Linked DNA regions of Homo sapiens: regions 1, 2, 4 and 5 are each linked to region 3. Evidence: fine-mapped QTL for protein levels in blood plasma. A gene starts in region 3. Each other region holds a variant in brackets. All regions are shown on one strand. Distances are between the middles of the regions.

Evidence for each region. PIP is the posterior inclusion probability: the model's chance that the variant is causal. The UK Biobank Pharma Proteomics Project read protein levels with antibody pairs (Olink). The fine-mapping took linkage between variants from a reference panel, not from the people measured, so its PIPs are less certain.
Region 1: its variant is fine-mapped to the plasma level of the SHISA5 protein (UK Biobank, PIP 0.99).
Region 2: its variant is fine-mapped to the plasma level of the SHISA5 protein (UK Biobank, PIP 0.92).
Region 4: its variant is fine-mapped to the plasma level of the SHISA5 protein (UK Biobank, PIP 0.94).
Region 5: its variant is fine-mapped to the plasma level of the SHISA5 protein (UK Biobank, PIP above 0.99).

What each region holds. Positions count from the first base shown.
Region 1 is chr3:47,492,424-47,497,508 of GRCh38, reverse strand. It overlaps ELP6 (elongator acetyltransferase complex subunit 6), which reads left to right. Exons shown (of 7, transcript NM_001031703.3): 7 at 1,312-1,869. The coding sequence ends at 1,440. Among named protein-coding and RNA genes, the nearest start is that of ELP6, 19 kb to the left of the region's middle. The variant C/T (reference allele first, on the strand shown) is at 2,020.
Region 2 is chr3:50,353,270-50,358,350 of GRCh38, reverse strand. CYB561D2 (cytochrome b561 family member D2) reads right to left here. Exons shown (of 4, transcript NM_001291284.2): 4 at 4,282-5,081. The coding sequence ends at 4,607. It overlaps TMEM115 (transmembrane protein 115), which reads left to right. Exons shown (of 2, transcript NM_007024.5): 1 at 1-138; 2 at 2,804-3,601. The coding sequence ends at 3,008. LOC127898564 (CYB561D2-LOC101928965) reads right to left here. Exons shown (of 5, transcript NR_183066.1): 3 at 1-233. Among named protein-coding and RNA genes, the nearest start is that of TMEM115, 3.7 kb to the left of the region's middle. The variant T/C (reference allele first, on the strand shown) is at 2,326.
Region 3 is chr3:48,503,502-48,508,587 of GRCh38, reverse strand. SHISA5 (shisa family member 5) reads left to right here and starts at 4,414. Exons shown (of 6, transcript NM_016479.6): 1 at 4,414-4,569. The coding sequence starts at 4,494. RefSeq lists an enhancer at 3,329-3,882 and silencers at 4,220-4,699, 4,710-4,759.
Region 4 is chr3:47,264,486-47,269,585 of GRCh38, reverse strand. It overlaps KIF9 (kinesin family member 9), which reads left to right. Exons shown (of 21, transcript NM_182902.4): 6 at 2,323-2,406; 7 at 2,518-2,610; 8 at 3,709-3,856. Among named protein-coding and RNA genes, the nearest start is that of KIF9, 16 kb to the left of the region's middle. The variant C/T (reference allele first, on the strand shown) is at 3,077.
Region 5 is chr3:49,273,074-49,278,173 of GRCh38, reverse strand. It overlaps C3orf62 (chromosome 3 open reading frame 62), which reads left to right and starts at 942. Exons shown (of 3, transcript NM_198562.3): 1 at 942-1,747; 2 at 4,034-4,125. The coding sequence starts at 1,302. USP4 (ubiquitin specific peptidase 4) reads left to right here. Exons shown (of 22, transcript NM_003363.4): 22 at 1-1,030. It overlaps MIR4271 (microRNA 4271), which reads right to left and starts at 4,054; the gene lies at 3,988-4,054. RefSeq lists a silencer at 919-1,118 and an enhancer at 1,259-1,328. The variant C/AAAAAAAC (reference allele first, on the strand shown) is at 2,655.

The DNA.
Region 1 (5,085 bases), 1.0 Mb after region 3:
AAAAATTAGCCAGGCATGGTGGTGTGGGCCTGTAGTCCCAGCTACTCGGGAGGCTGAGGCAGGAGAATCGCTTGAACCCAGGAGGCGGAGGTTGCAGTGAGCCAAGATCGCGCCACTGCACTCCAGCCTGGGCGACAGAGTGAGACTCTGTCTCAAAAAAAGAAAAAAGAAAAACGACTTGGGGAGGCCGTACCCGTGGACCAGGGTTGCTGCCCCAACTGCTGCCACTCACCAGAACAATTGGAGTACTTGGGCAGAAACTGAGAGTCCTGCCCTGGGAGGGAAGCTGGATTCTACCCCTCTAAATGGGCTGCCATGTGGCTCTGTGCCTTCTCAAACTTCTCTTCTGGAACCACTCCCAAGCCTCCACCACAGCTTCCTGGTTAACTTCAAGTTGAGCACTCCTGACCCAATAAGAGTGGCTAGGAGTCTTGGCCCAGAGTCCTTCAGAGGCAAGTCTGGTAGGTCACACAGAGGACCAAGCCCAGCAGTACTATGTGTGTAGTGCTGCAGCAGGGCCTGAGGAGAAGGTGCTGCTGGGCAGCTGTGGCCTCTCTTCAGCCAGACCCCCAGAGCATTGTAGTCAGCAGTAACACCATCAAAACAGGTATCTAGCCTTCCTGGGCCTCTGTAGTGAATGTACAAATTCTAATGTGATTTTCAAAATTAGTCTAGCCCGCAAGTACAAAACCATGCTTAGAAGAAAGAACAAAGGGACCGGGCACAGTGGCTCACGCCTGTAATCCCAGCACTTTGGGAGGCCGAGGTGGGCGGATCACCTGAGGTCAGAGTTCCAGACCAGCCTGGCCAACATAGTGAAACCCCGCCTCTACTAAAAATACAAAAATTGCCCAGGCATGGTGATGCGCACCCATAATCCAGCTACTTGGGAGGCTGAAGCAGGAGAATTGCCTGAACCTAGGAGGCAGAGGTTGCAGTAAGCCAAGATTGCGCCACTGCACTCCAGCCTGGGCAACAGAGTGAGACTCTGCTTCAAAAAAAAAAAAAAAAAACATAAAAATACTTTAAGGGTCTTCCTCTGAAAGACTTTTTCCTTCTGTTTCCTTTTTTTTTCCTCTTTCACATTTTCTGTATTGAGCCAATATGACTACTGTAATGGAGGGGAACCCTTTATTTGTAGTTAGCTGGTGATAGGCTTTATTTTACAAGTTGGCCCCATTACCAGATGGCACATCTGACTATCATCTCATAGAGGCCTCAGCTGAAGGGCACAGAGAAGGTAGGGTGGGGTTCCCAGTGGAGCAGGTCCTGGGGTGGCTGCTCCTCTTTCATTCTTCTCTGTCTCTGTAGCTGAGGATCCTGTGGAGGAGACCATCGCAGCCCGCAGTCCACCGGGATCAGAGCTTCACTTACCAGTATAAGATACAGGACAAAAGCGTGTCCTTTTTTGCCAAAGGAATGTCTCCTGCTGTTCTGTGACCTGATTTCGGAGCAGCTGAAGCTACATAGGACTGTTTTTGGACGTGGAAGATAGAGCAACATAGCAAGAATGGGTCTTTCTCCTCTGTAGTAATATTTCAGGCTGGACCGGCGACTCCACTGTGACCAGAGGGTTGAGTGCTGCAGTGATGGCATGCCTTGGCTGCCCTGGGCCCTGTTCAGAAAACACAAGGGACCACAATCCTGCCTTTGCTGAGAGAGAGGCTGGATGCTAGACCCAAGTGAAAGGGGTCCTTTGGAGCCTTTGTTTAAATATGCCTTAGCCCCAGCTGCCCATTTTTGGTTGACAAGCCTTTCAGAGCCAGAGTGGGTATAGATGTGCCAGCCAGGAGATGGCACCGGATGGCAGGTGTGCAAGGTGACAACTAGGATAATCATGGCTGGAATAAAGTAAGTTTCCACACTGGAGCTTCCTGTGGGTTGTCTTGTTCAATTTCCATCCTGGAAAGGTACTTTCCCTTTCCCTATGAGTTCAGCGAGGAAACAGACCTAGAGAGGTTTGGAAGCACACAGGCTGCACAGCAGGCTGTAAGTAACTGTGCCTCACTCCACAGTCCA[C/T]ACTTGCTGACTGACAGTCATGGAACCCAGAGGCCAGCTCCCCACCCAAAGGTGGGGACCTTTGGCTTCTCCAGTTTCTGTGGTGCCTTGCCTTTATGCCAACAAATCCTAGCCATCAAGGGCCTGGCACCAGGGCCTTGGCCACATGAGGCCCTGTGTAGGCGCAGGTGTGTATGGTCTTGGTGAGAGGGGTAAGGGATGTTCTTGCTGCCAGGCGGATCAGGCCTTGGCGAGTTGCTGGTGCCTCCCTCACCTGTGAAGACTGCAGGAGGTGGGCTCTTGCCCCGCATCCTGTAGATGACAACTAGTCCCACTCAGCCCCTCAGTTGAGGTCACCTCAGAGTAGACACCAGGTGTATTCTCTTAAAATGGCTGCTTTTTTGGTATATAAATTATATTACAATGAATTTTATCTTAAAGAAAATGAAAAAATAATACTATTTTGCTGTATACTAAGGAACTTACATAGCTGTTATTTTCTTTTCTTTTCTTTTCTTTTTTTGAGACAGTCTTGCTCTGTCACCCAGGCTGGAGTGCAGTGGCCCGATCTCGGCTCACTGCAAGCTCCGCCTCCCGGGTTCATGCCATTCTCCTGCCTCAGCCTCCTAAGTAGCTGGGACTACAGGCACCTGCCACCATGCCCGGCTAATTTTTTGTATTTTTAGTAGAGACGGGGTTTCACCGTGCTAGCCAGGATGGTCTTGATCTCCTGACCTCATGATCCGCCTGCCTTGGCCTCCCAAAGTGCTAGGATTACAGGCATGTGAGCCACCATGCCTGGCCTTTTTTTTTTTTTTTTTTTTTTTTTTTTTGAGATGGAGTCTTGCTTTGTCACCCAGGCTGGAGTGCAGTGGTGGCATGATCTTGGCTCACCACAACCTCCGCCTCCCGGGTTCAAGCTATTCTCCTGCCTCACCCTCCCAAGTAGCTGGGATTACAGGCACGTGCCACTGTGCCCAGCTAATTTTTGTATTTTTAGTAGAGATGGGGTTTTGCCATATTGGCTAGGCTCGTCTTGAACTCCTGACCTCAGGTGATCTGCCTGCCTTGGCCTCCCAAAGTGCTGGGATTACAGGCATGAGTCACCATGCCCAGCCTCTTTTCTTTGTTTTGAGACATGGTCTCTCTCTGTTGCTCAGGCTGGACTGCAGTGGTGTGGTTATAGCTCACTGCAGCCTCGACTCTCTGGGCTCAAGGGCTCTTCCCACTTCAGTCTCCCAAGTAGCTGGGATTACAGGTGCGTGTCACCACGCCCAGCTCATATCTGTTGTTTAATTTTAACTTTTTGGATTTTTAGTCTTTAGGAAAAATTTATCACACTTCTCTTCAAATCATACCATTGTGTATGTTATCCGTCTGAAACAGTAAGCTGCTTTTATTCTCAAAATACTGTAGACCTGATAGAATATTTGAAAGTTATGAGTGCAATTAAGAGAAAGTAGTTATTAAAGAATCTAATGATTCTTTGACTAAGACTTCATTATTTATGCAAACTTCGTTTGAGCTACGATTTTGAATGGGCAAGGCACCATTTTTTACATGACATAAATGTTGCTATCATGTTTCTTCACTTAGTTTATAGATGTTTTCACTATTTTTTTTGAGACAGGTTCTCTCTGTTGCCTAGGCTGGAGTGCAGTGTGGCACTTCTTAGTTCACGTGAATTCCAAGTGATCCTCCCCTACCTCAGCATTCTGAGTAGCTGGTACTACAGGTGCCCACCACCATGCCTGGCTGTTTTTAATTTTTTTGTAGAAACGGGGTGTCACTTTGCTGCCCAGGGTAGTCTTGAACTCCTGGGCTCAAGAGATCCTCCCGTCTCAGCCTCCCCTTAAATATTTTATGTTTAATAGCTATTGAGGGCGGGGCACAGTGGCTCACGCCTGTAATCCCAGTACTTTGGGAAGCCAAGGCGGGTGGATCACCTGAGGTCAGGAGTTCAAGAGCAGCCTGGCCAATATGGTGAAACCCTATCTCTACTAAAAATACAAAAATTAGCTGGGCGTGGTGGTGGGCACCTGTAATCCCAGCTACTTGGGAGGCTGAGGCAGGAGAATCACTTGAACCCAGGAGGCGGAGGTTGCAGTGAGCCGAGAATGCACCATTGTGCTCTAGCCTGGGCAACAAGAGCAAAACTCAGTCTCAAAAAAAAAAGCTATTCAGCATTTTATGCTATCATTATATTCTAGTTTGTTTAGTTATCCTCTGGGCATGTAGATTCTGGTTTTTACAGTTATCAATTATGCTGTTATAAATTTTATATACTCTACCTATTGCGGGTGGGGATAAGTACTTGTTTGTTTAGAACCTGACAAACCAGGTCACTGGCAGAGCTCATAGAACTTACGTTCTGGAAGAGAAGACAGGCAATCAACAGAATCGACAAAGGACATATTTAACTTAGACCACAATAAGTGCTATAAATAAACCAGCACAGGGGCCTGTGAGAAGTGAGGGGTGATGACATTTTAGTCCATACCCTCTAATGGAATTATTGAATTACAGCAGAAACTGGCCCTGGCACATTATCAGGTTGTTCTTCAGAATGATGGAGCCAGTTGACAATGATGCAGAGATTTTGCTCTGTCAACTTTGGGTTTAACTTATTTTTAATTAATTTAATAGTGGTGGTTGTGTGAGAATGGACTAATACAGGGGTAGAAAAACAGGATCATAAGGTGTGATATGGTCCATAAAAATGATTCTAGTGTGAAATGGACATTTCTTTAATCACTAGCATATAATTTTCTCTGTATTTTTCCGTGTGTACAGAATCTGTTCCTTATCCTTGCTTACTTATCAATTAAAACCTGGTGTTGGTCGGGCATGGTGGCTCATGCCTGTAATCCCAGCACTTTGGGAGGCTGAGGCAGGCAGATCACTTGAGTCCAGGATTTTATTTTTATTTATTTATTTATTTTGAGACAGAGTCTTGCCCTGTTGCCCAGGCTGGAGTGCAGTGGCGCAATCTTGGCTCACTGCAACCTCCACCTCCCGGGTTCAAGCGATTCTTCTACTTCAGCCTCCCGAGTAGCTGGGACTACAGGTGCCTGCCACCACGCCCAG
Region 2 (5,081 bases), 1.8 Mb before region 3:
GCTGGCGAACTTGGTGCACAGCCTCCTGGTGAAGGTAAAGATATGCCAGAAGACGGTGAAGCGCTACGATGTGGGTGCCCCATCCTCCATCACCATCAGCCTGCCAGGCACAGACCCTCAAGACGCCGAGCGGAGAAGGTACTGTGAAATTTTCCAAAATCTTGTCAAGCTAGGAGCATACTGGTCGAGTCACATGCCATCTGTTGAGGTGTTCGCTGTACATAGGTGGAGACCTACAGTCAGGTATTGGGGCACATCCGGAAAGACAAAATCAGTCTTTGGCCTTAAGGAACTCAGCAGTTAGGTGTCTGGGGTCCACGAGGCACTTTTCTCACCACTCGGGCCACTTAATAAGTCTCAAGAAATGCAGTTTCCTTTGGTGCTGTGAAGTCCCAGTGGAGGGACACAGAACCCTGGCCTTGCCTCAGAATCTCAGAATCCTAGACATTGGGCCTGTGGGAGCCAGAAGCAACCTGCTGGTACTTTCCCCTGTGAGGAAGGGACAGGGAAGGAGGCCTGGGGTCCTCAAAAGGTGATCTGGGCCACTCCAATTTCCAAATGCTGTGTCCTCTTCCTGGGCTTTAACTCAGATGCTGTGCTTCTCTGCCACTTACTTATTGAGAGGGAAGCTTGGGGTATTACCACATTTACCTCTGTCTCCAGCAAGCATGTGTCACCAAAACCAGGGACAGGCTACATGACCCACTGAGGGAGCCTGCTGACACCAGGGAGTGGCGATGACCCTTTCATTATCTGTAAACCAAGCTATCCACAGCATCAGGAGTCCCAGCTGAATTATTCACTGAATGCACTTTGGCCAGGGCAGGAGGGATCTTTTTAAATTCAGCTTACTCTCTCTCCCAGATCTGTGGAGCCAGCAGAGTGGTCCCAGCCTTCATAAGATCCACAGCTCCATTTCCAACATTATTCCTCACTGTTTTGAGGCAATTACTCGAGTAGTAAAATCTGGGACGGGCTTTGTCTTTTGCATTGCCAAGGCTCCTGCTTTTGCTCACCTGTGAATGGGGTTGTGGCAGGAAGCTCTATGAATTTAGCTGCAGTTATCCCTGTATTTACTCTCCACTGGGCTATGGAATTGAGTGTGGGACACACTCCTTTCTTGAAGGAGTTCCAGCTGGGGAAGGGCCACAGATCACTATGGCCCAAGGTATGGTAGGTGTTGAAAAGTATATACAGCATGCTGCAGGGCATAATTCTGGGCCCTAGAGCTTGGGTCTTTATAGGTGATAAGCCCTAAGGACAGAAGTCTCTCTTAACCTTAGCTGGTATTAAAGATGGGGCCAGGTGAGCTGGGCCTGGTAGGAATTGAGCTGTCCCTCAGAGCCATTCAGGTGGGGCCAGGCCAGTGGGGACCCCTCCTCCACTGAGAGGTGTTGGAATGTTAGGGTTGGCTGGACATTCAAAAACCTCTGCCTAGGCCCAAGAAAATGGACAGGGGGGAAGCAGGTTGGTGGGGAGGAAGGGAGGGTCAAGAGGCGGGTTCTTGGCATAGCCTTATGGTTGTTAGCTTACATGGGGGTGGCGGTTATTCCTCCAGCCAGTTTGACATCTGACTGCATGGCCACGCCCAACTCCAAAGGGCTACCAGGAGAGGGAGGCAGGGTTTCCTATCTGTCTCTCTGGTCCTTGTGAGGAAGTGACTAGCGTAACACTAGCTCTCTGCCTTGGCAGGCTTTAGATGGAACTGGCAAGGGCATCATCAGGATGGCAGCCTGGGTAGCAGCAGGGAAAGACTGTCCTGTCTATACCAACTTGTCATGTGTGAGACTGACGGGCAGGGGGGAAGCGTGCTAGGGCTTTCTACACCTGTGCCCTTGTTGCCTCTCTTGTCGTGTTCCCTGACATGGTGGAGATTTTGGTTCTCAGCTGGAACCTGAAAGGCTACACAGGCTGTCCCCACATTGGTGGCACAGAGAGGCTGAGGTATAGGAGTCCACAGTGGTCACTGTTGAAACGGTTCCCTGGCAGCTGCAGCACTCCACCTTCTGGTGGGTCAGGGTCCCAAGCACATGTGTAAACCTTCTTCTGTTGGACTTTCCCACCTGCCCTCAAAGTGGGGCCTCTAAGGGTCCACCCTGTGGAAGCAGTAGGCTCTGGCCTGTGCCTACCCATGTGAGCTGTTTCTCCTTCTTCTCCTCTTGCAAGGGCTCCGCTAAGTCCCTGCTCTAACAAGGGCCTTGGTGGCTTTGGGGGTTCTTCTGAGAGGGAGAATATTAGCATCAGTTAGGAGGGGTAGACTCACCCAAGTTGGCCCTGCTTCCTGGGCTGAGAGCCAAGGGAGGTGTTGAATTCCAGCCTTCCCCA[T/C]TGACCCTTGCCAGGAGGCTCAAGATACCCCTAACCAGGAGAGGGGGAGAATTAATAACCCTTCCCTTGGATGTGATGCCAGCACCCAGGCAGAAACTCCTGGAAACTCCAGAACTTGCCGTTCCACCCATCTGCCCTAGGGCACTAGTTCCACTGACCCTTAGATACCACCCTCAGAACCATTCCTGGTGGCTGGCCTCGTGGGCAGTCTGGCAGACACCCAGCTGACCTTCCCATCCCGGAGGTGCCTCAGCTATGGAGGGAAGATTCTTAGAGCCTTTGGGTTATCATTCTGATGGCAGAGTGGGTCCTAAACCAATCTCTGGGGAGTCCCAGGCTCTGCATGGTGAAGGGGAAACATAGGATTCTGGGGGAGGAGTCTAGGTGGTACGGTGAGGAGTCAGCCTGCTGCGGAAGGGTAGAGGGCATGAGCCAAGGCCAAACCCAGAGTGACCTTTCCTCTCTCCTCTGGCCCCAGGCAACTGGCCCTGAAGGCACTCAATGAGCGGCTGAAGAGAGTGGAAGACCAGTCCATCTGGCCCAGCATGGATGATGATGAAGAGGAGTCTGGGGCCAAGGTGGACAGCCCCCTGCCCTCAGACAAAGCTCCCACACCCCCAGGGAAGGGGGCTGCCCCAGAATCCAGTCTAATCACCTTCGAGGCAGCTCCCCCGACGCTGTAACTCCAGACCACCTTGAGTGTGGCACCTCCCCTCCCAAGCCCCCCTTGACATCCTCTCAGCTACTCCAGGGCACCTGACTGCTCTGAGGAGAGGGAAGAAGGCCTGCTGGGGCTTTCCATGGCCTTCTGCTGTTTCTCGCCAACACTACCCAGGACTCTTGCTACCTGGTTCCAACTCCAGACAACCACTATGCCAGGCCCGGAGCCTCTGAGGCATCGGCCAGTCCAGGCCCTCATCTGAGGTAAGAATGTACATCAGCTGGCAGCCCCAAGCAAGTGGCTGCAGGGACACTGATGCCACAGCTCCTGGGCCGGCCCTCACATCTGAAACTGGTTGCCGAGAGCCCTGAGCCAAGGCAAGGATTTGCCAAAAATGTTCTGGGGGCCCAGCAAATGCAGGAGCCGACCTGGGGCTGCACATCCCTGCCCATCCCCAGAAAGACTGTTCCTGTCAGGATTTGTTTCCCTCTGCTGTGGCGGTGACTGCTTCTGGACCAGAACAGCTCCAGCTCCCAGGTATTTTCTACAGGACCACTTGAGTGGGCAGCCAAGCCCAGGCTCGCAGTATCAATAAAGCAGTTCTCTGAGGAATGACTCCTGGGCTCTTGTCAGGCCACCTTGTGCAGCCCCCTCATCACGTTCAACTGCAATGTTAGACAGGGACTTGATTGTCTCCATGGTAACTCCAGCTGGATAAGAAGCCCATTGCCCCAGCTCCCCACCACCGCCACCACCACCACCACATGCGCACTGCCAAGCAGCCTTCCAAGAGCTATTGCCTCAGACTCTTACTCCTTTTTTCTTTCCCTCCAAACCCCAATCTGGGAGGCCTTCTGTCCCTGCCTAGATCTGATGATAAGGGCCTCTCCATCATAAGGCGCTGTTCTTACCCATGGTTTATCTCTAAGACAGAATGCTCAGTTCTTGCCACCCCTGGAGACAACTCACCCCCAGCTCCCAGTTATTGTATGTATCTAACCCCCACAGTCTGGAGACTCCAGCACAGTAGACAGTTGGGGGGACAGAAAGGACACACAGCTGTACCATTCACAGCTACAGCTCTAGGGCCTGCCAGGGCCCGGAGTGGCCTGGGAGGCTCAGCAGCTAGACCCTGGGGATTTGTGTGCTAGGAGAGCTTCAGCCCCTCAGGGAGCAGCCAGGGGTCGGGGGTGGGGGGTCCCCATCTTGCCCAGCTGCCCATTTTCCTGTGCTGATGGCATTAACAAGAACCATCCCCAACTCTGGGCTGCTTCTCCCATCAATCTTTTCAGTCATTTTTTACAAATTTTTTACTTTTTTCTCTCCTAAAATTTCTGAACATACAGTACAAGTATGAGCTGCCTTGCAGGAGAGGCAGTCTTGCAGCCCCAGCTTCATCCAGACACATGATGCCTATGTTCCTCTGGGATGACAGAGAAAGGGGAAGGAAATGGGAGGCACTCCAGCATGAGGAGCAGGAATTCACACACGGGCCTCCAAATGCCCAACTGTCCCAGTGCCTGAGGTGTCCCCTGACTCAGCTGAGAGAGTTCAACAGGTCCCTAGGCCCAGCTCCTACATGGAGGGGCAAATCCAGGCTTCCCCTAGGCTGGGAAGAGCTCATGGTTGGATCCTCTTGCGGTATAGGTAGGCATTGCTCACCTGGTTCATAATGACCAAGCTGGTGAGGACAGGGCATAATACAGCCAGGTACCAGGCTGCACCAGTGACAGAGGCAGTGAACCAGAGTGAGCACATGCCCAGCAAGAGGCTGGCACTACCCAGCAGGTAGCCCACCAGCCCAGAAGTAGCATGGTATAGCTTGAGCTTCGCCAGGGGCCATCGGGGCAGCAGCTTGGGGTAGAGCAGCCCCACCCCACCTGAGCACTGCAGCCCTGCCCACAGCACAGCCAGCAGCCCTGCCTGCCCATGCCGCGTAACCAGGTGGGCTTTGCCAAGCTGCTCTTTGTGGAGGATGACAAGGCCGAGGCCCAGCAGTGCACACAGCAGGGCCAGCAGCTGCAGCACCCAGTGGCAGCGTGCTCGGCCTTTCCGTGAGAGGGAGTGCAGCAGCGAACTCTCAGGAGAAAACACC
Region 3 (5,086 bases):
CAGTCTCGCTCTGTTACCCAGGCTGGAGTGCAGTGGTGCGATCTCGGCTCACTGCAACCTCCGCCTCCTTGGTTCAAGTGATTCTCCCACCTCAGCCTCCTGAGCAGCTGGGATTATAGGTGCACGCCACCACGCCTGGCTAATTTTTTTTGTATGTTTAGTAGAGATGGAGTTTCGCCATGTTGGCCAGGCTAGTCTTGAACTCCTGACCTCAGGTTATCCACCCGCCTCGGCCTCCCAAAGTGCTGGGATTACAGGCTTGAGCCACCTTGTCCAGATGTTTTCTTTTTTTTTTTAGGTTTTTTTTTTTTGAGACAGAGTCTTGCTCTGTTGCCCAGTCTGGAGTGCAGTAGTGCAATCTTAGCTCACTGTAACCTCTGCCTCCTGGGCTCAAGCAATCCTCCCTTGTAGCTGGGAATACAGGCACGCATCACCATGCCCAGCTAATTTTTGTATTTTTTGTAGAGACGGGGTTTTGTCATGTTGCCCAGGCTAGTCTCAAACTCCGCGCTCAAGAGGTATCTGCCTACCTCTGCCTCCCAAAGTGCTGGTATTACAGGCATGAGTCACCACGGTGCCCGGCCCTGGTGAGAACTTCTCTGTCAGTTGGAGGAAACTGACTCTGCCCAACTTAATCAGAAACCCAATTTATGAAAAGCAACTGTGGAGCCCTCAGAGCCAACAAGGCGGCTGGAAAGAAAGGTTCCAAGTCGAAGCAGTATCGTCTCCAGCCCAAACCACAGTGCTACTTTGGCCTGGTGAGCATGCCACTGCTCCTGCCACGAGGGGGAAGCAGGGGCCTTTGTGACTCACACAGCCCTCCCCACAGGTGCAGACTCATGTTTCTGCCAGGACTGCTGCAGCCCTCCATCAAAGCTGGTGGCCAGTACCCCTGACTGACTCCAGGGAGGCTACATCTGATTGGTTGGGGCTGGGCAAAAGCTCTTGCCCTGGGGCAAAGGAATCTGAAAAAGATAATATCTAGCGTGTTCCTCCTCTGATGTGGAGGAAAGGGGACCAGGTGCTGAATGAAGAAGAATGGCAAGGATCCTTGAGCAAGCGTTCCACTGTAGAACTCACCGATCTGGTCCTGCAGTCAGTCCTGGGGCTGGGCTGATGGCCTCATTCTCACCTGGTTACTCTCACCCTGGGCTTTACAAGCATCAGTGGGTGTTGCTTTGCTCCACCAGCCTGATGCAGAGTTCTCACCTACAAACTGTAACCAAGGTCCCAGCAGAACACAGTCATTCTTAACAAACTGGGTATTTGAGGAGAGTTTGATAAAAGTGCTGTTGCACTTTGGGAGGCTGAGGCGGGCAGATTGCTTGAGCCCAGGAGTTCGAGACCAGCCTGGGAAACATGGCAAAAACCCTACTTCTACAAAAAATACAAAAATTAGCTGGGCGTGGTGGTGTGCATCTGTGGTCCCAGTTACTCCAAAGGTTGAGGTGGGAGGATCACCCCAGTTTCCTGGGGAAATTGGGGCCGCAGTGAGCCGTGACTGCACTCCAGCCTGGGTGACAGTGAGACCTTGTCTCAAAAAAAAAAAAAAAAATTGCTGTTTACAGAGCTGTAGGAAGGTTTGGGGAGCCACCTAGCTTTGGTACAGCATCTGGGCCAAGTCCTAGCCTTGGTACAGCATCTGGGCCAAGTTTGGTTTCTGCCTTGGAGGGGTCACTTTCCCCAGGCAACTTGTATTTCCAGGCTTTGCAAGCCTGAGCTGCAGAGACAAAACTCCTCAGACACCGAGTTAAAGAAGGAAGGGGTTTATTTGGCCGGGGGCATCGGCAAGACTCCTGTCTCAAGAGCAGAGTCCCCCGAGTGAGCAATTCCTGTCCCTTTTAAGAGGGTGCTCGTGAGAGGGTCGTGATCGATTGAGCAAGCAGGGGGTACGTGACTGGGGGCTGCATGCACCAGTAATTAGGTCAGAACAAAACAGGATAGGGATTTTCACAGTGCTTTTCTATACAATGTCTGTAATCTATAGATAACATAACTGATTAGGTCAGGGGTCGATCTTTAACTACCAGACCCAGGGTGTGGCGCCGGGCTGTCTGCTTGTGGATTTCATTTCTGCCTTTTAGTTTTTACTTTTTCTTTCTTTGGAGGCAGAAATGGGGCATAAGACAATATGAGGGGTGGTCTCCTCCCTTAGACCCACAGAAAATGCCTGCACACATGGGCACATGCCTGTGAGATGCATGGTTGCGATTTCCAAGCCACTGGGGTGATCCTAGCCTCCACTCACTCCTGCCCATGCACAGCCCTGGGTGGAGCCCAAAACACCCACCAAGCTCAACCATGAGCTGTGGGCAGATAAGAGGGTATGGGAGAGCCAAAGACCAAAAAAGTAGGGAGGAAGAGGCCAGGTGAGAGGCCCCTAAAGGATCTGGGGTTGGGGGCAGCAGAGTAGAGAAGCCAAAGGCAAGCATAGGAGGTGGGAAAGGACAATTCTTTTTTTTTTCATTTTTTTTTTTCGAGATGGAGTCTTGCTCTGTCACCCAGGTTGGAGTGCAATGGCGCGATCTTGGCTCACCACAACCTCTGCCTCCCGAGTTCAAGCGATTCTCCTGCCTCAGCCTCCTGAGTGGCTGGTATTACAGGCATGCACCACCACACCTGGCTAATTTTGTATTTTTAGTAGAGACGGGGCTCTACTGAACATGGAGATGTTGGTCCATGTCTATCCAACATGGAGATGTTGGTCAGGCTGGTCTCAAACTCCCAACCTCAGGTGATCTGCCTGCCTCTGCCTCCCAAAGTGCTGGGATTACAGGTGTGAGCCACTGCACCAGGCCTTGTTTTTCTATTTTTGAGACAGGGTCTTGCTCTGTTGCCCAGACTGGAGTGCAGTGGCACAATCATAACTGCAACCTTCATCTCCTGGGCTCAAATGATCCTCCCACCTCAGCCTCCCAAGTAGCTGAGACCACAGGTGCTTGCTACCATACCCAGCTAATTTTAAAATTTTCTGTAGATATGGGGTCTCCTTATGTTGCCCAGGCTTAGAACAACTCTTAGGAGCTTGGCTGGGGGGCAGGGACTGGAAAACCAAGGAACAAGAAACCAAGCTTGTGGATGGTGCAGAGTGGAATGAGCAACCTTTAGGGAGGCAGAGGGCTGGGCACCCAGGGTGTGGAACACAGGATGGCTCTAGAGCTGGACATGAGGAGCATACACTGGCCATTCTGCAGAAGGGGGACCTAGGCTGCACCCAGCTTTGGAGAGTGGCGCTCAGGAGGCAGAGGTGGGATAACCAGGCTGGGCTGTCAGGGAGGATGTGACTCCAGTCCCTCACTAAGACCCTCCCAGAGGGCATCCTGCCTGGGAACTGTCATATCCCTGCCCCCCACATGTGTATTGAGCACGGTGAGTCTTAAGCCCTTCTTGGCCAGGAGGTGATGGGGGCTTATTGGAGACCCAGGCCTTCCTCTCCCTGTTCTAACACCCTAGCCTGGGAAACTACTGGGAACATCCCAGATTGTCCCCTTGGGTTTCTCTTTGTCCACAGCGATGCCCCCACCTTTAGGTGAGAAATATATGGTGGCACACAGGGTGCACAACCCAGCCTGGGTGCCCCACTAGTGTGACATTTCACGTTTTCTGTCTTGAGTGAAATGTTCTGATTGTGCTAGGTGCAGAGTGGGGGTGGGTCAGGAACTCTGGGCATAAAAGGAAGAATGACTCAACATCCCTGATTCTGCCTGGACCCCTGCCCCGAAGTGAGGGGGCGGAGCCCTGTGTGGGAAGTTGGCCTGGCTGTGTGCCCTGGGAGCTGCCAGTTTCTAGCTCAGTCCTGGCCCACTGCGCCAGCGCTGAGCCTGCCAGGGCTGGGGCTGGGGATCACCTTGGGATGATGGTGTCAGTCCCAGGGGGCAGGAGATCGAGTGTCCTCTGAGCTGGCGACTGGGCCTGTAGAAGGGAACCGGCATTTGTGGAGTGTCTACTGAGTGCCAAGGTCTGCGCTGGGCACTGTCCTCGCACCGCCTCACCTAGTCCTCACGTAGCCCTCGGGCAAGTGAGGATCCGCCGGGACTGCGGCTGGGAGGGATGGCTGTGGCTGTCCCCCAGCCCACACAGTAGGCGCTCAGTGTCAGGGTGCATATTCCCGGGGACGCCCTCCAGGCCTGAGAGCTGGGGGCCGCCGCCGCCCCCCATGCATCCGGTGAGCAGAAGGAAACTCCGTGCGTCGCCCGGCGCCTGTCCGAGTCTGGGAACCGGTACCAAGTTTTCGCGCAGACCCCGGGCGCGAAGCTGGCCCCGAGGCTGGGAAGTCGTCCGCTTCCTTCCTTCCTCCTCCTTCCACCTTCCTCCCTCCTCCCTCCTCCCTCCTCCTCCCTCCTCCTCCTCCTGCTCCCCCGGACAGAGGTTCCGGGAACCAGCCGGGCCGGGGCGGGGCGGGGCGAGGGAGAGGGGCGGCCGCGCGGATCACTGAGGCTGTGGCGGCACTGCGCCCGGCGCTCGCGTCCGTCCGCCCGTCCGCCCGCCCAGCCATGACTGCGCCGGTCCCCGCGCCGCGGATCCTGTTGCCGTTGCTGTTGCTGCTGCTGCTAACGCCGCCTCCGGGTGGTGAGCCGGGGGTGGGGGCGGCCCGTCCTGCCCTGGGACCGGGCAGACACTTCCCCGCGCTGCCTCTCCAACGAGCCGGGCAGCACCAGCCCCACTATGCCCCCCACTGACCCCTGATTGCCCCGAGGCCGTCAGCGAACCCCCACGACTGCGGACCCCTCCTCCACCCCAGCACCCTCCTTGCCTGAACAACCCTGCCTAGACACCAGGCAGCTGCCACCTTTGTCTGTCCTGGAACGGTGGGGAGGGGTCTGCCCTCCCGCCCATGTTCCAGGGGATGGAGTCCCCAGAGGCTAGGGTAGGGTTCCCTGCCTGGCTTTAGTCTGGCGGGTGGCTGCAGGGCGAGCTGGCCCCTCCATCAGAGGCCTTCCCTCTTTGCCTCTGTTTAATGTCTGGGAGCCCCCACCGCTGCCTCCGTTGGCCCTTGTGTTCCTGTAGAGCCCGGCGCTGAGGCTGGCCTCTGGGGTGGAGACACCACTGTGTGTGTTGGTTGCAGATAGGTGATTCACAGAGTCTG
Region 4 (5,100 bases), 1.2 Mb after region 3:
AAATGCACTGGCACAGTGGCTCACGCCTGTAATTCCAGCACTTTGGGAGGCCAAGGCGGGTGGATCACTTGAGCTCATGAGTTCAAGACCAGCCTGGGCAACACAGTGAAACCCCACCTCTACCAAAAATACAAAAATTAGCCAGGCATGGGGGCGCATGCCTGTGGTCCCAGCTGCTTGGGAAGCTGAGGTGGGAGAATCACTTGAGCCCAGCAGGTAGAGGTTTCAGTAAGCTGAGATCATGCCACTGCACTCCAACCTGGGTAATAGAGCAACACTCTGTCTCAAAAACAAGAAAAGAAATCAGTCAAGTGTATGTTATTCTTTTAGAAGTCATATAGGCTAGGAACTCTTTATTTTTTTATGCAAGTTCTCGCTGTGTTGCCCAGGCAATGGGCACATGTGCAATGGCTATTCACAGGCATGATCATAGTGCCTTCTCACAACATAGCAACTTACTTCCTCAACGTCAATAGCAGGATCTTTTTTAAAGGGCCAGAAAGACAAGGCAAGGCCAGGCGCGGTGTCTCACACCTGTAATCCCAGAGCTTTGGGAGGCCGGGGCAGGCGGATCACTGGAAGTCAGGAGTTCGAGACCAGCCTGGCCAACATGGTGAAACCCCCTCTCTATTAAAAATACAAAAAAAGAAAGACAAGGCAAGAGGGTACTTCAGAAGGGGGACTGAAGAGTAAAGGTGAATGACCTGCTGTGGTGGCTCATGCCTGTAATCCCAGCACTTTGGGAGGCTAAGGCAGGAGGATTGCTTGAGCTCAGGAGTTTAAGACCAGTCTGAGCAACATGGCGAAACCCTGTCTCTACAAAAAAATATAAAAAATTAGCCTGGCATGGTGGCCTGTACCTGTGATTTTAGCTACCTGGGAGGCTGAGGTAGGAGGATCACTTGAGCCCGGGAGGCAGAAGTTGCAGTGAGCCAACATCACGCCACTGCACTTCAGCCTGGGCAACAGAGTGAGAATGATCTCAAAAAAAAAAAAAAAAAGAAGAAGAAAAATGAAGTGACCCCTTATATTCTTGGTGAGTGTCACTGGATTTGTAGAACAGGCCTGACCATAGACTATAGCCTCACTACTATAAGCTATAGAGGTATGGCCACAGGAGTCTGCTAGGCTTGCTCCACAGCCTCAGGCCTTCCCTCTTCAGCGGGTGCTCTCCTCTCCCCAGGGGGGGCTGTCCCCCACCCTCACTTTGGGGCTTGTTCATAGCACTTCTCATCAGCATTTAAGGAGACATCAGTCTATCCCTCAAGGACCTTTTTCTCCAAGAACAGCCATTTCCACCACACCACCACCCTGTCTCTACAAAAAATTCCTTTTTAAGTATATTCTGGTCATAAGGCCTCCTCCTGTAAATTAGAGGTAAGGGCCTACTGTCCCTTTAAAAATACAAATTACTAGGTCAGGCACAGTGGCTCATGCCTGTAATCCCAGCACTGTAGCAGGCCGAGGCGGGCAGATCTCTTGAACTCATAAGTTCCAGACCAGCCTGGGCACATGGTGAAACCCTGTCTCTACAAAAAATACAAAAATTAGCCAGGTGTGGTAGTGCACGCTGGTAGTCCCAGCTACTCAGGAAGCCGAGGTGGGAGGATGGCTTGGGCCCGGGAGGCAGAGGTTATAGTGAGCCGAGATCGTGCCACCACACTCTAGTATGGGTGACAGACTGAGATGCTCTCCCAAAAAAAAAAAAAAAAAGGAGAACACAAAATAAATAAAAATATAAATTATTATTTTTATAGTAATACATGCTCACTAAAAAAAACCCACAAAACTGTATAAAAAAGATAAAATAACCTATAAACCCCAACCCAGAAGCAACTATTATTAACATCTTATTAGCAGAATTCTGCTTATTTCTTCTATGAATGCTTTTGCATTTCTTAGATCAGCTATAATATGATTTTGGATTCTACATTTCTCTCTGTTATTAAAAACTATGTGTCAGCATTTTCCTGGCTGCCCAATATCCCACTGTATACATAGATCATTCCCAAATTGTTGGACATGCAGGTTGATTCTGATTCAATATTCATAAACATTTTTAAGGCTCTTGATTTTTATTGTCACTTTGCTTTCCAGAAAGCTATACCAATTCACACTTCCCCAGCGGCGGGTGAAAGTGTAGATGTGGACTCCAATTTGACTCCCTTTCTATTAGTTTATAAAAGAGGTTTGCCTGGAAGGCCCAGCTGATCGCAGTGATATGAGACCACTTGTGTAGCTATTGGTATAATTGAAAAATGACCCAAGTGCCTTGTCGTTTTAGTTTTTCGAAATGTTGCCTATGATTCCCTTCCTCTTCAGGGTGAGACCAACAGGATTATAGCCTCCCACACTATGAACAAAAACTCTTCCAGATCACACTGCATTTTCACCATCTACTTAGAGGTAGGTGCAAGCTCTTTGATCAGCCCAGGCGGGGCAGTCAATTCCCACGGGGCCTGCTCAGTCAGAAACTTCTCCCTGTGACAGTCTAACTTCTGCTTGGATGTTTTGTAGGCCCATTCCCGGACCTTATCAGAGGAAAAGTACATCACTTCCAAAATTAACTTGGTGGATCTGGCAGGCTCAGAGAGGCTGGGGAAGTCTGGGGTAAGTGATGGGGGCTGGAGGTTGCTACTCAATAAACCACAAGCCCTTTTTCTGGCACAGTGCCTGCACATCTGGGCCATGACTCATTGGATATTTGTGAACACAGTCCTGAGCTAGGCGAAGTGGGACATGTGGGCTTGCTGGAGGGACAGGATTTGCAAAAAGGGAACGGCTATTACCTGGGGGCGGTTCCTACCTCAGAGGATTTTTGTAAACATTAAATGAGATAGTGCCCTCTACATTCTTAGCAAAGTGCCTGGCACTCAGTGCTCAGTAAATATTCCTTGCTGGTATAGCATTTCTCTGTGTGTGTTTTTGTTGTTGTTGTTTTGAGACACAGTCTCGCCGTGTCTCCCAGGCTGGGGTACAGTAGCACAAATACAGCTCACTGCAGCCTTGACCTCCCAGGCTCAAGTGATCATCCCACTTCAGTGTCTCAAGTATCTGGGACCACAGGTATGCACCA[C/T]CATGACCAGCTAATTTTTAAATTTTTTTGTAGAGACGGGGTCTCGCTATGTTGCCAAGGCTGAACTTGAACTCCTGGGCTCAAGCGATCCTCCTGCTTTGGCCTCCCAAAGTGCTGGGATTACAAGTGTGAGCCACCACACCTGGCTTCTTTGTGAATGAATATGAGTATTCGTATGAGTATTTGCATGAGTATTTCAAATAAATATTTGTATGAGTGTATTAGCAGAAGTATTAACAAGAGTATTCAGATGAGCATTTGTATGTGCATTCATGAGTGTTTGTGTGAATATTCACAGGATTCTTTGCTCAAATATCTAGACAAGTATTTCAGTACATATTCATATTAGTGTGAATCTTTGAGTGAATGTCCATATGAATATTCATGTAAGCATTCACATTCGCATGAGTATTCACATGAGTGTTCACATGAATATTTCTGAGTTTTGGTATTACCATTATTAGCCCAAGATGGAATACAATCGCATGACATTGAAAGAAGACCCTGGTTCTGGGAAGGAGGCGCTGACCTGACCACAGACTTATAGCATTTCTCCAGACCAGGAAGACTGCTATTCTTAGTGGGGCAGCTGCTTTATTCCATCCAAAGTGGAACTGACCTTTGCTTTGTAGTCTGAGGGCCAAGTCCTGAAGGAAGCCACCTACATCAACAAATCGCTCTCATTCCTGGAGCAGGCCATCATTGCCCTTGGGGACCAGAAGCGGGACCACATCCCCTTTCGGCAGTGCAAGCTCACCCACGCTCTGAAGGACTCGTTAGGTGAGGGGGTACAGTTGCTGCCCAGGGAGGAGGGTCTGTGTCTTTGGGGAGGGACAGGTTTGGCACATCTGCCACTGGTGATGATAGAATTGCTCCCTCCTGGTGGCATGGATTCACCTGCAGCACATTCACAGTGACTTCAGACACCTGGAAAGGCAGAATCAAGCACTGTGCCCAGAACACACTATGCTATTCACTCCTCAGAACCTTCCTTAGGCTTTTTACCTGTGCTAGGAATACCTTCTCTTTTCCTCTTGTCCTGAGGAGACAGCTGGCAGAATCCTTCACAGCCTGAAGACTTGGGGCGAGGGCCTCTCTCCCATGGTGTCTTCCCTTCCCCTGCAGCCTCCTGTACAGAGCAGCGGGGGCTTTGTCTTATCATCCCCATAGCCCTAGGCCTTTGTGTTGAGCCTGACAACACAGTCACTAGTGTCTGATTGTTAACTGAGTGCCACCCTGAGCAAAGCTCCAACTCATACCTCCCTCTCCTGTCCCTGCCCCTCCCTGCCCTGTATCATCTCTCCTCTGCTGTTTTCTCCTGGATCCTCTTTTAGGTACATGTGGTGGCCTCTCTTTCTCTCTTCCCCTTACCTCCCAGCCTCACAGATGTGTGTGTCCTCTCTGACCCTGTCTCAGTTCAGGCTGCTATAAGAAAATACCATAAACTAAGTGGCTTAAACAATAGACATTTATTTCACATAGTTCTGGAGACTGGAAGGTTCAAGATTCAAGTGCCAGCAGATTCAATGCCTAGCGAGGGCCCTCCTCCTGGCTTGCAGATGGCTACCTTCTCGCGTATCCTCACATGGAAAGAAAGAGAGGGTTCTGGTCTCTTTCCTTATAAGGACACTAACCCCATCATGGGGGCCCCACCCTCTGACTTCAACTAAACCAAATTACCTCCCCCTCCCCAAGTCCTCCATCCAGATGCCATCACGTCGGGGTTACAACTTCAACATATGAATTTTATAAGGACAAAAACATTCAGTCTTGACCAGGTGTGGTGGCTCACACCTGTAATCCCAGCATTTTGGGAGGCTGAGACAGGAGGATCGCTTGAGGCCAGGAGTTCAAGACCAGCCTGGGCAACATAGCAAGACCTCATCTCTACTAAAAACAAAAAAAATTAGCCAGGTGTGGTAGTGTGCACCTGTGGTGCGAGCTACTTGGGAGGCTGAGGCAAGAGGATCACTTGAGCCCAGGAGACTGAGGCTGCAGTGAGCTGTGATTGTGTCACTGCACTA
Region 5 (5,100 bases), 770 kb before region 3:
TTATGAGCAGAAGGAAACAAAAAAAAAAAAAGAAGACCGTTTACCTAGAAGAAGCTATGTCAAGAGGCTGAATTATTTTTATTTTTAAACAGGTGGTGAGAAATTTCTGTGAAACCTGTGAAGCTGAAAAGGGGGTGGGATGGGGGTACTCAATGGAGTATGTCTGATGGATCCCGAAGAATGGAGAGGAACACAGGCGCTGAGTATGGAGCAGCCTGGAGACCCACCCCACCTGCAGGGCTGCCCTGAGCGCCTGGATTTCTGGTTCTGATGCCAATACTAGTCACCCCAAGTAGTCTGCTCACAGTAACCCAAACCTCAAGTAAACTCCCCTTTCCCTCGCTATGTGCACTGATATGGGTTTATAATTTTCTGAAAGTTACCCACTGAAGCCCATTTCTCCGTTGAGTCATCTTGTAATTTCCAGCTTTCTCCCCGCTAAGGAAGATATCTAGTGTTGGGGATCCTGGCCCCTCAACCTCCTGTGGAACCCAGCAGTTCTGTTATATCCCCTGCTACCCTAGATGAATTAAGACGGTTAAATACTGTGTGGAACTTTTATTAGATAACACACTTTTTATTAGATAACGCTTAAAGGAAGTCAGTACATAAAACTGCCCGGTGCTGTGTCCCGTCTAGTTGTTTCCATGTTGGCTTGAGAACAGAAATCTTTGTGGGAGTTAGCCGGGAAAGGGCTCCAGTTCATGGCGATTTAGGGTAGTAATACATTTTGGTGTTACCCAGATGCTTTCTAGAACGGGTTCTTTCCTCATCCCTGCCAAGACTCTTCCCGGGGCCCCCATTCGAAAGCCCCGTCCCCACTCCCACCGCGGGGCCAGCCGCTGCGTGTGGGCAAGGCCTTAAGGAACCGGACGTATGGGTCCGGGATTTTTTGTCTGACCTTCAACCTAATCCGTGGGGGTTTGGGGCCTGCGCGGGGCACGCGCATGCGATGACCGTTGGATGGGTCGGCGTCACTGCGCTGCGGGTGAGGACAAGGACGTGGCTGCCGACTCGCCAAAGGGGGGGTGCCGGTAGGGCCAGCGGCCTGGGAGCCGCGGTGGGGCGGGAGGCAGCGGCGGGGCGGGCCAGGAAGCTGTGGGAAGTGGGGCGGGGCGTCTTTGGGGCTTCTGGCAGATGGCGGGTTCCTCCGCGAGAGCCGAGAACCGCCTACTCCAGGAGGAAAGCCCGAGGGTTGTGGGTCCTGCTATAGCCAGGGCCAAGCTCCAGGAAATCGTGGCCATTCAGGGGTAGTTTGCAGCCTCATTTGTAACATTATTGTGTTGTCCTGTGCATTTCCAATGCATTACATAAAGACATGGTCGCTTTTAGGAGAAATGTCTGAAAAACTAAGAAGATGCAGAAAGGAACTGACTGCAGCCATTGACCGGGCCTTTGAAGGAGTTAGTTATTCCCAGGAGTGCACAGGCCAGCAGAGGCTGGAACTGAGCGCCGCGCCGCTCTCCTTCTCGCTGCCCGTGCACAGGCTCCTCTGCAGAAGACATCCTCTGGCAGCCTGCTCTTCTGCTGCTCCTTTTGCTGCTGTCCCATGTGCTCCTGAGAATGAGAACCCTGCCTTTGCAACAAACCATGCCCCGGTAAATGCAAAACCACATGCTCTGTGCCCCGAGAGAAAACCTCTAACCAGCAAGGAAAATGTATTGATGCATTCCTCCATTTTGGCACCTGAAAGAGAGTCTTGGAGAACTGCAGGAGAGGGGGAAAACTGGAGAAAAGAAAATTTAAGGTGATTCTAATTTTGATGGTTTAACAGCTACAATTAAGGGGATTCTTGTTTCTGAAAAAGTTGTTGAAGATCCTAGATTTAGTTCATGACAGTGCTCTTGCCTCCTCTTGGCAGCTCTGTGACTGCATTTGGGGAGTTGACAGACATTCTTCAGAATCTGGCCTAGGAAACAGTTATATTTTGTGTATATGTTCCAGTTGAGGGGCTAGTTGTCAATCGTTGATGTCAAAAACCAGTCATGGAAACCACTTTGCAGTACCCAAAGGGGTAGTGGATGTAAAATAACCGGGTTTTAAAAATAACCTTATTTTTTAAGTTGCAGAAACAAAAGTCTTAATTCCATCTTAACTCCTGTGTTTGAATCTGGACACTGGGGCCTTTGATACCCTCCTTTGCCCACATTAGGGAGAGGCTTAATTGAAGGCTGGGCCCTACTTCCTGGCTTCATCTTTGCCTCTGCTCCCCGCTCTTACCCCAGATCTTTTTGGACCATCACCAGGTCTCTTCTAGACTTTTTCTTCTCCCGAGTAACTTGAAATTGCCTGGTCCCAGGCACCTTGACTTGGAGAAGGGATGAATGTATGAGATGAAACTTCAGGCCGGGCGCGGTGGCTCACACTTGTAATCCCAGCACTTTGGGAGGCCGAGGCGGGCAGATCACGAGGTCAGGAGATCGAGACCATCCTGGCTAACACGGTGAAACTCTGTCTCTACTAAAAATACAAAAAATTAGCCGGGCGTGGTGGCGGGCGCCTGTAGTCCCAGCTACTCGGGAGGCTGAGGCAGGAGAATGGCATGAACCCGGGAGGCGGAGCTTGCAGTGAGCCGAGATCACGCCACTGCACTCCAGCCTGGGCGACAGAGCGAGACTCCGTATCAAAAAAAAAAAAAAAAAAAAAAAAAAAAA[C/AAAAAAAC]TTCAAAGTTCTGCCATCTTGGCTGCTTCATAGGAAGGGGATAAAGAGGCCATTTAATTGGTTCAACTCCACAAGAATTTTTTTCCTTTCAACTCCACAAATATTTATATTGGTACTCATAAGCAGTGCAGGCCTTGCCGGGTGTGGTGGCACGCCTGTAATCTCAGCACTTTGGGAGGCTGAGGTGGGTGGATCGCTTGAGGTCTGGTGAAACCCCGTCTCCACTAAAAATACAAACATAAGCCGAGCGTGGTGGCGCGCGCCTATGATCCCAGCTACTTGGGAGGCCGAGGCAGGAGAATTGCTTGAATCCTGGAGGCAGAGGTTGCAGTGAGCTGAGATCTTGCCATGGCACTCCAGCCTGGGCAACAGAGCAAGACTCCATCTTAAAAAAAAAAAAATGCTGGGCACAGTGGCTCACGCCTGAATCCCAGCACTTTGAGAGGCTGAGGCGGATGAATCACCTGAGGTCAGGAGTTTGAGACCAGCCTGGCCAACATGGTGAAACCCCGTCTCTACTAAAAATAGAAAAATTAGCTGGGTGCCGTTGCGGCCGCCTGTAATCCCAGCTGCTCCAGAGGCTGAGACAGGAGAATCGCTTGAACCCAGGAGAAGGAGGTTGCGATGAGCCGAAATTGCGCCCTTGCACACCAGCCTGGGCGACAAGAGCAAGACTCTGTCTTTAAAACAAACAGGCCAGGCGCGGTGGTTCACTCCTGTAATCCCAGCACTTTGGAAGACTGAGGCGGGCAGATCACCTGAGGTCAGGAGTTCGAGACCAGCCTGGCCAACATGGTGAAACCCCCATCTCTACTAAAAATACAAAAATTAGCTGGGCGTGGTGGCAGGCGCCTGTAATCCCAGCTACTCAGGAGGCTGAGGCAGGAGAATCACTTGAACCTGGGAGGCAGAGGTTGCAGTGAGCCGTGATTGCGCCATTGCACTCCAGCCTGGGGGACAAAGCGAGACTTCATCTCAAAAAAATAAATAAAAAATAAAAATAAATAAATAAGTAAACAAATGCAGGCTGGGTGAGGTGGCTCATGCCCGTATTCCCAGCACTTTGGGAGGCTGAGGCGAGTGGATCGCCTGAGCCCAGGAGTTCGAGACCAGCCTGGGCAACATGGCTAAACCCTGTCTCTAAAAAAGAAAAAAATTTAATACAGTCTGCGATGCTCGTGAGTCATTATGGTAAAGCTGTTAGTCAATTTCTCCACTGATGTAGCAGTTTCCAATTGTCCTTTAATCAAAGCATAAATGACAAGGTCACCAGTAAGTTTTTGTCTTTGAGATTATCTAAAACTGAGTTTCCCTTCAATATTTTCTTGAAAGAGAATCTAATTCCCCACCTTTTCTTCCCCCCCACCTGGGGGCTGCAGGAAAGATATGGAGAGAGATTTGAAGGCTGACTCAAACATGCCACTCAACAATTCTAGCCAAGAGGTCACAAAGGATCTGCTTGATATGATTGGTGAGTACAGTGGGCAAGTCCATCCTGTCCTTGGGAAGATAGGTCCTTCACATGGGTCTGAGTCAGCAAATATCTCAGATATAAGAAATGCTCTCGGCCAGGCACGGTGGTTCATGCCTGTAATCCCAGCACTTTGGAAGGCCGAGGAGATCGAATCATGAGGTCAGGAGTTCAAGACCAGTCTAACCAATATGGTGAAACCCCGTCTCTACTAAAAATACAAAAATTAGCCAGGCGTGGTGGTGCACGCCGGTAATCCCAGCTACTCGGGAGGCCGAGGCAGGAGAATTGCTTGAACCCGGGAGGCAGAGGTTGCAGTGAGCTGAGATCTTGCCACTGCACTCCAGCCTGGGGGACAGAGTGAGACTCCCATCTCAAAAAAAAACAAAAAACACTCTCTTCTAGCTTGGGTACCATACATAGCGAGATCTGTCTCTTAAAATTTTTTTTAATTAGCTGGGCACAGTGGTGTGTGCCCATAATCCCAGCTACTAGGGAGGCTGAGGTGGAAGGATCACTTGAGCCCAGGAGTTCAAGCTATGATCATACCACTGTACTGCAGCCTGGGCAACTGTGCGAGACCTCATCTCAAAAGAAAAAACACCACCACCACTTTTTGGGGGGAGAGACAGAGTCTCATCATATTACCCAGGCTGGAGTGCAGTGGCACGATCACAGTTCACTGCAGCCTCAACCTCCCTGGGCTCAGGTGATCCTCCCAGCTCAGCCTCCCAAGTAGCCATAGTACTACACTAGTACTACAGGTGCACGCCACCATGATTGGCTAATATTTGTATTAGGGTTTTGCTGTGTTGTCCAGGCTGGTCTCGAACTCCTAGTCTCAAGTAATCCACTTACTGTGGCCTCCCAGTGCTGGGATCAGGCAAGAGCCACCACTCCCGGCCAAAACACTCTTATCTTTTTATTTGGTAGATGTTTTGCTCAGACTCTGCATTGATTAGGGAACTGAATGTT